Linked DNA regions of Homo sapiens: region 2 is linked to region 1. Evidence: fine-mapped expression QTL. A gene starts in region 1. The other region holds a variant in brackets. All regions are shown on one strand. Distances are from middle to middle. Region 1 holds the start of GRAMD1A (GRAM domain containing 1A). Region 2 overlaps LOC124904699 (a long non-coding RNA gene).

The links. PIP is the estimated chance that this variant, and not a neighbour inherited with it, causes the effect. A credible set is the group of variants that fine-mapping cannot tell apart.
Region 2: its variant is the best candidate, but not a certain one, in a credible set for the expression of GRAMD1A in whole blood (INTERVAL, PIP 0.51).

What each region holds. Positions count from the first base shown.
Region 1 is chr19:34,998,069-35,002,290 of GRCh38, reverse strand. It overlaps GRAMD1A (GRAM domain containing 1A), which reads right to left and starts at 1,968. Exons shown (of 20, transcript NM_020895.5): 1 at 1,805-1,968. The coding sequence starts at 1,812. RefSeq lists silencers at 1,354-1,483, 1,754-2,133 and an enhancer at 3,908-4,222.
Region 2 is chr19:34,965,580-34,970,091 of GRCh38, reverse strand. It overlaps LOC124904699 (a long non-coding RNA gene), which reads right to left. Exons shown (of 2, transcript XR_007067236.1): 2 at 2,172-2,401. Among named protein-coding and RNA genes, the nearest start is that of ZNF792, 3.6 kb to the right of the region's middle. The variant G/C (reference allele first, on the strand shown) is at 2,250.

The DNA.
Region 1 (4,222 bases):
TGGATCTCGAGGACACAGTGGCCAGGTAGTGGAATAATGCGTGGCACATGCTATACTAACTGTAACAGGTGGACAACGTCAGTTATCATTATTGCCTCCAAAGTGCCCTGGGTACTCCCAGGGTCTTAGAAGGGAGGGTTCCAAGCCTACAGAGAGCCACAAGGGGTCTCACACTGTTCACACACACACAAAACCACAGAGGGTCTCAGCTGTACACAGAGAGGCCTAGGCACCACTCAATACTGTCACAAAGGAATACACAAGGGAATGTTCACACAAAGATGGAATCAAATTAAGTTACAGCCACACTCACAGAGCCCCAGACACACAACAATGTCACAAATGTAACTTACATTGGCACACAGAGCTAAATGAGAGTTTCAAGCCAGGCGCGATGGCTTAAGCCTGTAATCCCAGCACTTTGGGAGGCCGAGGTGGGTGGATCACCTGAGGTCAGGAGTTCGAGATCAGCCTGGCCAACATGGTGAAACCCCATCTCTACTAAAAATACAAAACTTAGCCAGGCGTGGTGGCACACGCCTGTAATCCCAGCTACTCAGGAGGCTGAGGCAGGAGAATTGCTTGAACCCAGCAGGAGGAGGTTGCAGTGGGCCGAGATCGTGCCACTGCACTCTAGCCTGGGCGACAGAGCCAGACTCTATTTCAAAAGAAAAAAAAAAAAAGAAGAGCGTTTCAGAGCTAAATTACAGGCATATGCAGGCACAGAGGGTCATGGTAGAACCCAGAGCCCCAGGCACACTTGTACACACACCACTAAGTCACAATGGGACGCACACTGGTAACTTACAGCAACGCTTGGAGCTACAGATAGAATTAATGGTAAAACACACACAGCCCAAGAAGGATCAGAGCTGCTACACACGGTAACTCCAGACACATGTACAAACACTCCAACGTCACACTCAGACACACAGGGGTAATTTATATTTGCACAGGGAGCTACAGATGGAATGAGACACAACACGCACACAACCAGCTGCTCACAGCCACAGATTTGGAGCCCCAGACACACACAGGTAACTTACAGTGACACACAGAGCCGCGGTCAGAATTAGTGGTTAAGTTACACGCAGGAACTCTATCAGAGGCCCAAAGCTGCTGCAGGCTAGCAGCCCCAGACACACGTACACACACTTGCAAGACAATTCACAGTCGGAAGCACATGCGCCCACCTGGACCGGAAGGGGAGTAAGAAGTCAATTCCGAGCACACAGGACCCCCCGCCCTCCATGACCTCAAGCACGCGGTCCTGGAGAGACGCAGGAAGCCCCCACCCCCGGCAGCCCCGAGACCCGCAACAGCCAAGGACGGTGGGAGGGGGCCCAGGCAGGAGGGGGCTGCCTACTCCCGGCGCGCCCAGGGCTCCGCGGCCTGTGGGCCTGGGCTGGTCCCGATCCTGTCTCCATCCCAGGCCGGAGCCCCAGTTCGGCCTCGCGCTCACCCCTGGCTTACCAGGCAGGGGGTTGCCAGGCCTGAGGGCCCTCCCCGCCAGATGAACCCGCGGGCCCCCAGCCAAACCCCGCAACCCAGTGCGTCGCGGGCCGGCAGTGGCGACCCAGACCCCGGGCCCTGCCCTGCGTCCGCGCCCCACTCCCCAGCTGCACCCCTCGCCCGGGGGCCCCCTGCCCCGCCCCCACCCCGATCGCCCCGGCCAGAGCCATGTGCAGAGGCCCCCGACCTCTGCAGCGGCCGCTCCGCCCCCTCCCCAAGCCCGCGGCGCCCCCTCCCTCCGGTGGCCTCCCCCGCGCGCCCGGTCCCTGAGCTCTAGTCGCCCGGTCCTTACTCGAACATGGATGCGGCGCGGTGGGCGCGCCCCGGGCGCAGGGCAGGGCAGGGCAGGGCAGGGCTGGGCTGCGCGGGGCTGGGCTGCGCTGGGCGTCCCCGCAGGGCACCGGCCTGGCCTTCCGCGGCCGCCGCCCCCACCCGACCCAACCGCCCGCACAAAAGGCCGGAGCCGCCGGAGGCCGCCGCGGCGTCAGCGACACCCCCTTCCTTCCCCCGCCCCGCCGCGTCACGGCGCCGCCCCCAGCCCGGGAGGGAAGGCGGGGAGGGGCCGCAGAGGCCTAGAAGGAGGGAGAAGCCGGGGAGAGAGGGACTGGACAGAGAAGGGAAAGCAGAGGGGCAGAGAGACAGAGAAGGAAACAAAGAGACTTTATTAAAACCAAACATCGTGGAGGCAGCTGCCTGCCCGCAGGTTGGGGAGCCCCCTCCCCTAGTACCTAGAAAAGGGTCCCTAGCAACTACTATGCCCCTGGCCAGAAGCTCCTGGACCTCCCAGGGAGGAACCTGAGAGCCGGGGCGAAGGTGGGGGAGGACTGGAGATGCTGGGAAACCGAGGTGTATGTATGGGGGAGGGGGCCTGAAGCTGGCGGGAAGGGGTGGGGCCGGTTGGCCGCCTCCTCCTTCCCTCTCCCAGTCTCTGAGCCCGGGTTCCTGGTCCCAGGAGGTCCGGTGCCTCCGTTTCTAGGGACTTCCCAGTTTTGGTCAGCCAGGCCAAGTACCAAGTCAGAATCCAGCCTCCCTGGCTCTTATCTGTGCTGAGACCTTGCGCTCATCACCCCAGTGCTGGGAGTCCCACTAACTCGGTGGTAAGGGCTTTTCCCGGGGACAGCGCAGGAACGGGCAAAATCAGTCCTTTTACGGAAGGAGAAGCCCGGCCTCTAAGATGGGAAGTGACTTGTTGGGGTCACCTGGTAGGTAGGCGGCAGAGTTGGATTCGATCCTGCTCTGACGCCATAACCTGCGTCCCCCCTCCCCCGCCCCGTCTGCAAGAGGTCAGAGTCAGGTGGTGTCCTGGACTCCTGGCCCAACCACACAGAAATGCGAGTCCCACCTCACAGCTCCGGGGCTGTGGCTCCCCAGCGCTCTCCAGGGTACGCTGTCCCCGCCTCTTTTGAAAAAACTCCCTTCCCAACCCTCTCCATCAACCCTTCCCCTCCTCCTGCAAAAGAAGCCCACCTGACTTCTCCATTTTGATGAATGGCAGGCCCAGAACTTCAGAGTCTTTTCTGACCCTCTCTTTTCCTTCACACCACATCCAATCCGTCACAAACTGTGGGCTCCACGTATAAAATCAATCGCTCCATTCTAAACTCTTCTTCCTCCGCTGCCCACGCCCTGGCCCAGCCTCCATCCTCTCCTGCCTGATCTCCCTGCTCCCATCCCTGCCCCTACTGTCTGTTCTCACCTGCAGCCAGAGAGAGCCTGGGACCACCTGAGTCAGTTAACTACCCTCCTGGCTCAGAGCCCTGCCCCAGCTGTACCTCACTCCAGGTAAAAGCAAAGTCCTCACCTTGGCACCCAAGGCCCCTGTCAGCTCTCTGACTTCAGCTCCTCATCTCCCCCTGGCTCACACCCCCCATCCAGCCTACCCGCTGTTCTTCTAACTCACCAGGCACCTTCCTGCCTCCTACCCCAAGACCTTTGCACTGGTTATTCCCTCTGCATGGACAGCACCCCCCCTATCGCCGTGCCCTACCTCTCATGCTAACCCCCACCTCTAAAACCCCCATCCACCATCTGACATTTGCTGCCTCCCACCGGCCAATGGAAGAGAGGCCCTCCTCCCACCACCTTCCTCTGTCCAACTGATCTCTTTAGATTTCTCTTTGGTCTGTTTCTTCTAGTGTAATGCTTTTAGTTTTTTAATTAAATAATATTTATTTCAGGTCAGGCGCGTTGGGTCACGCCTGTAATCCCAGCACTTTGGGAGGCCAAGGAGGGTGGATCACCTATCAGGAGTTCGAGACCAGCCTGGCCAACAGAGTGAAACCCCATCTCTATCAAAAATACAAAAAAATTAGCCAGGTGTAGTGGCTTGCACCTGTAATCCCAGCTACCCAGGAAGCTGAGGCAGGAGAATTGCTTGAACCCGGGAGGTGGAAGTTGCAGTGAGCCAGGATCGCACCACTGCGCTCCAGCCTGGACAACAGAGCAAGACTCCATCTCAAAAAAAAAAAAAAAAAAAAAAAGGAAGAAAATATAACAGTCCTCTATGTCCCCTGTACCTATATAGAATAGATGTGGACATTTTGCCATTTTGCTTCAGGTCCTTTTTTTAAAAGAAATAAATGATTACACTTACAACCAAAGGCCTGGCTCCCCATCCCTCCTTTCCCTTCCCGTGCCCCCCAAGGAGCCTTCTGCCTGCCATGCAGTTGGTGTGTTTCCTTCCTGCGCTTTTTTTTTTTTTTTTTTTTGA
Region 2 (4,512 bases), 32 kb after region 1:
TAGGGTCTCCCTGACTGAGCTGGTCTCGGCACTTTGTATCTTCTCTCCCAGAGCCTGTGTCCAATTCCGTCTGAAGCAGGGAAAGCCTCAGCCACACTGTCCACCTGATATAATTTGGATATTTGTCCCCTCCAAATCTCAGGTTGCAAACTGATCCCCAGTGTCGGAGGTGGGGCCTAGTGGGAGGTGTTTTGCTCACGGGAGCGGATCCCTCATGAATGTGTTGGTGCTGACCCCACAGTAATAATAGTTCTCCCTTGCTTCCTGCCATGTGATCTCCACACACCAGGTCCCCTTCACCTGCCATCATGAGTGGAAGCTTCCTGAGGCCTCATCAGAGGCTGATGCTGATGTCATGTTTCCTGTACAGCCTGTAGAACCTTGAGCCAAATGAACCTCTTTTCTTTTCCAGATAAAAATAAATTAGTGGCTGGGTGCAGTGGCTCACTCCTGTAATGCCAGCACTTTGGGAGGCTGAGGCAGGCAGATCACTTGAGGTCAGGAGTTAGAGACCAGCCTGGTCAACATGGTGAAACCTGTCTCTACTAAAAATACAAAAAATAGCCAGGTATAGTGGCGCACATCTGTAGTCCCAGCTACTTGGGAGGCTGAGGCAGTAGAATTGCTTGAATCTGGGAGATGGAGATTGCGGTGAGCCAAGACTGCACCACTGCACTCCAGCTTGGTAACAAAGCCAGACCCTGTCTCAAAAATAAATAAATAAATAAGCTGGGTGTGGTGGCACATTCCTGTGGTCCCACCTACTCAGGGGGCTGAGGCGGGAGGATCACTTGAGCCTGGGAAGTCAAAATGGCAATGAGCTATGATCATGCCACTGCACTCCAGAGTGGGCTTTAGAGCAAGACCCTGTCCCAAAGAAATAAATCAATAAAAATAAAAATAAAATTACCATATGACCCAGGAATCCCACTACTGAGTATACATCACAAGGAATTGAAATTGGTATGTCAAAAAGATATCTGCACTGCCATATTCATTGCAGCAATGTTCACAATAGTCAAGCGACTGAAGTGCTCATCAACAGATAAACGGATTTGTACAATGTGGTAGAGATACACAACTGAATACTATTTGGTCATAAAAGAGAAGAAAATCCTGTCAATTGGGACAACAAGGTTGAACCGGAGGACATTATATTAAGTGAAATAAGTCAGGCACAGAGGACAAATACTACATAATCCCACTCATATATGGAACCTAAAAAAGTTGTCTCATAGAAATAGAGTGAAATGTTGGTTACCAGAGGCTGAGGTTGCCAGGTGGTGGGAGTGGGGCAATGTTGGTCAAAGGATATAAAATTTCAGGTAGCTAGGAGGAATAAGTTCAAGAGATCTATTGTACAACCTGGTGACTGTAGTTACGGTGTATTCTTGACAAATGCTTAAAGAGTAGATTTTAAGTCTTCTCAACACAAAAAAGATAACTAAGGCTGGTGCCATGGCTCACACCAGTAATCGCAGCACTTTGGGAGACCAAGGCAAGGAGGAGTGCTTGAGCCCAGGAGTTTGAGACCAGCCTAGACAACATGGTGAAACTCCATCTCTGCAGAAGATACAAAAAACTAGCTGGGTGTTGTGGTGCACGTCTGTAGTCTCAACTTCTCGGGAGGCTGAAGTGGGAGGATGGCTTGAGCTCAAGAGGTCAAGGCTGCTGTGAGCCACGATAGTGCCACCGTACTCCAGCCTGGGTGAGAGAATGAGACCCTGTCTCAAAACAAAACAATGTGAAGTGATGCATATGTTAATGAGCTTGATTTAGTCATTCTGAAGCAGGATATTTCCCTGACCCCTTCTTGGATGGGAACTAGAGTACATGGGCGCTGTCAGGGACGAACTCCACTCGCTTGTTGTTCCACCCCTCATGGGGAGGGGAGCACAGGTGAGTGGGTGCAGGAGACAGGGTGAGGGCTTTTGGGTGCTGGCAAGAGCAAATTCCATACTAGCCCCACGGCAGTGTCTAGGGGAAGGTGCTGTGACCCCTGAAGCCCCTGACGAAGTGTTACAGTGCCCTTTTAGCTTTGCCATCCATGCATAGCTTAAGTGTTAACAGCTCAGTGGAGGGTCAGTGCGACAGCCTTTTGTACCCACACTCATGGCACCCAAGTTTTTGTCTGGCATCCAGGAGGAATGAGGTCACACAAACAAATTGAAGATGGTAAATGCAGGGGATTTTATTGCCGGTGAAAGTGGCTCTCAGCAGGAAGAGGAGCTGAAAAGGGGATGGAGCAG[G/C]AAGGTAATCGTCCCCTGAAGTTTGGCCATCCCTGGCCATCCTCTCCAAAGCTACGCTGTCAAGCTGTCCCTTTGAAGTCAGCCTGCTTCTCTCCAACATCCAACCATAGTCTCCAATGTCCAGCTGCTTTTCTTCTCTCTGCCGGCTGAGCCTGGGGTTTTTATGGGCATAGGATGGGGGGCAGGGTGAGCCACGGGTGGTTTTGGAAAAGGCAACATTTGAGTGGGAAAACAGGGATGTAAGTTCTCACTTTGGGCCGTGGTATCAAGATTTTCAGCTTGATGGACCTGGCCTCTTCTGCCCAGAATTTCCCTACCTCCTGTCCCTATCAATTCCACAATGTATCTATATTTCAAAACATCATGTTGCATACAATAATTATATATTATTTTATAAATTTAGAAAAACAAAAAAATGCAGCTATAAGAAAATAATAAAATAAAATCAAGTAGGCAAATGTTACTATGGTGTGCTTTCATGTAAAAATCATAACTATTCCCTCTGAGGCGGTACTTGCTGAGTTAGAGTCATTGTATATTTTGACAAACATCCAAAAGACTGCACAGAGGTGTCTCTTCCCTGCCGCCCCACAGCAGTGTTTGTAAGATTCTTGTGATGATGGTGTTGGTAATGACAATAGCTTTTATGCACCCAGCAGGAATTCTGTCCTGGGCCCTGTTATCTACCATTGTAACCACCCAATGGGTTCTTTTTGCCTGCTACAAAAAGACCACGGCATTGCAGTAAACAAAGTCTTTAACTGACACAGGGCCAGCCATGCCATGGGAGAAACAGAGTTATTACTCAACTTGATCTCCCTGAAAATTCAGTGATCAGAGGTTTTCAGGGATAATTTGGTGGGTGGGGGGCCAGGTAGTGGGGAGTGCTGATTAGTTGGGTTAGAGATGAAATCACAGGGAGTCAAAGTTGACTAACTGCACTGAGTAAATTCCAGGGTGGGGACCACAGGACCAGATGACCCAGTTTATCAATCTGGGTGGCACTAGCTGATCCATCGAGTGCTGGGTCTGAAAAATATCTCGAGCACCAATCTTAGGTTTTACAATAGTGATGTTATCCCCAGTAGCAATTGGGAAGGTTTAAAATCTTGTGACCCCTGGCCCCTGGCTGCATGACTCCTAAACCATACTCTCTAATCTTGTGGCTTTTGTTAATCCTACAAAGGCAGTCTGGTCCCCAGACAAGAAGAGGGTTTGTTTCAGGAAAGGGCTGGGTTTTTTTGTTTGTTTTTGTTTTTGAGATGGAGTCTCGCTCTGTTGCCCGGGCTGGAGGCGATCTCAGCTCACTGCAAGCTCTACCTCCCGGGGTTCATGCCATTCTCCTGCCTCAGCCTCCTGAGTAGCTGGGACTACAGGTGCCCGCCACCACACCTGGCTAATTTTTTGTATTTTTAGTAGAGACAGGGTTTCACCATGTTAGCCAGAATGGTCTCGATCTCCTGAACTCGTGATCCGCCTGCCTCGGCCTGCCAAAGTGCTGGGATTACAGGGGTGAACCACCATGCCCGGCCTAGAGGGAAAGGGCTGTTATCTTTGCTTCAAAGTTAAACTGTAAACTGAGTTTCTCCCAAAGTTAGTTAGGCCTATGCTCAGGAACGAACAAGGACAGCTTGGAGGTTAGAAGCAAGATGGAGTTGGTTAGGTCAGATCTCTCACTGTCATAATTTTCTCAGTTATAATTTTTACAAAGGTGGTTTCACCATATGACATGTAGTATCGGGGGAACCCACCCCCGATAATTCAATGTGGGTTCTTTTCTATTTTCCCTAAGTGTCGGCTGGTCTGAGAAATAAAGGGAAAGAGTACAAAAGAGATAAATTTTAAAGCTGGGTGTCTGGGGGAGACATCACATGTCAGCAGGTTCCGTGATGCCCCCGAGCCATAAAACCAGCAAGTTTTTATTGGCAATTTTCAAAGGGGAGGGAGTGTACGAATAGGGTGTGGGTCACAGAGATCACATGCTTTAAGGGCAACAAAAGATCACAAGGCAGAAGGTCAGGGCGAGATCACAAGGTCAGGGCAAAACTAGAATCACTCATGAGCTTCCATGTCCTGCTGTGCACGCATTGTCATTTATAAACATCTTAACAGGGTTCAAGAGCAGAGAACTGGTCTGACTAGAGTTCGCCAGGCTGGAATTTCCTAATCCTAGCAAGCCTGGGGGCGCTGCAGGAGACTAGGGTGTGTTTCATCCCTATCTACATGTGCATAAGGCAGACACTCCCAGGGCAGCCATTTTAGA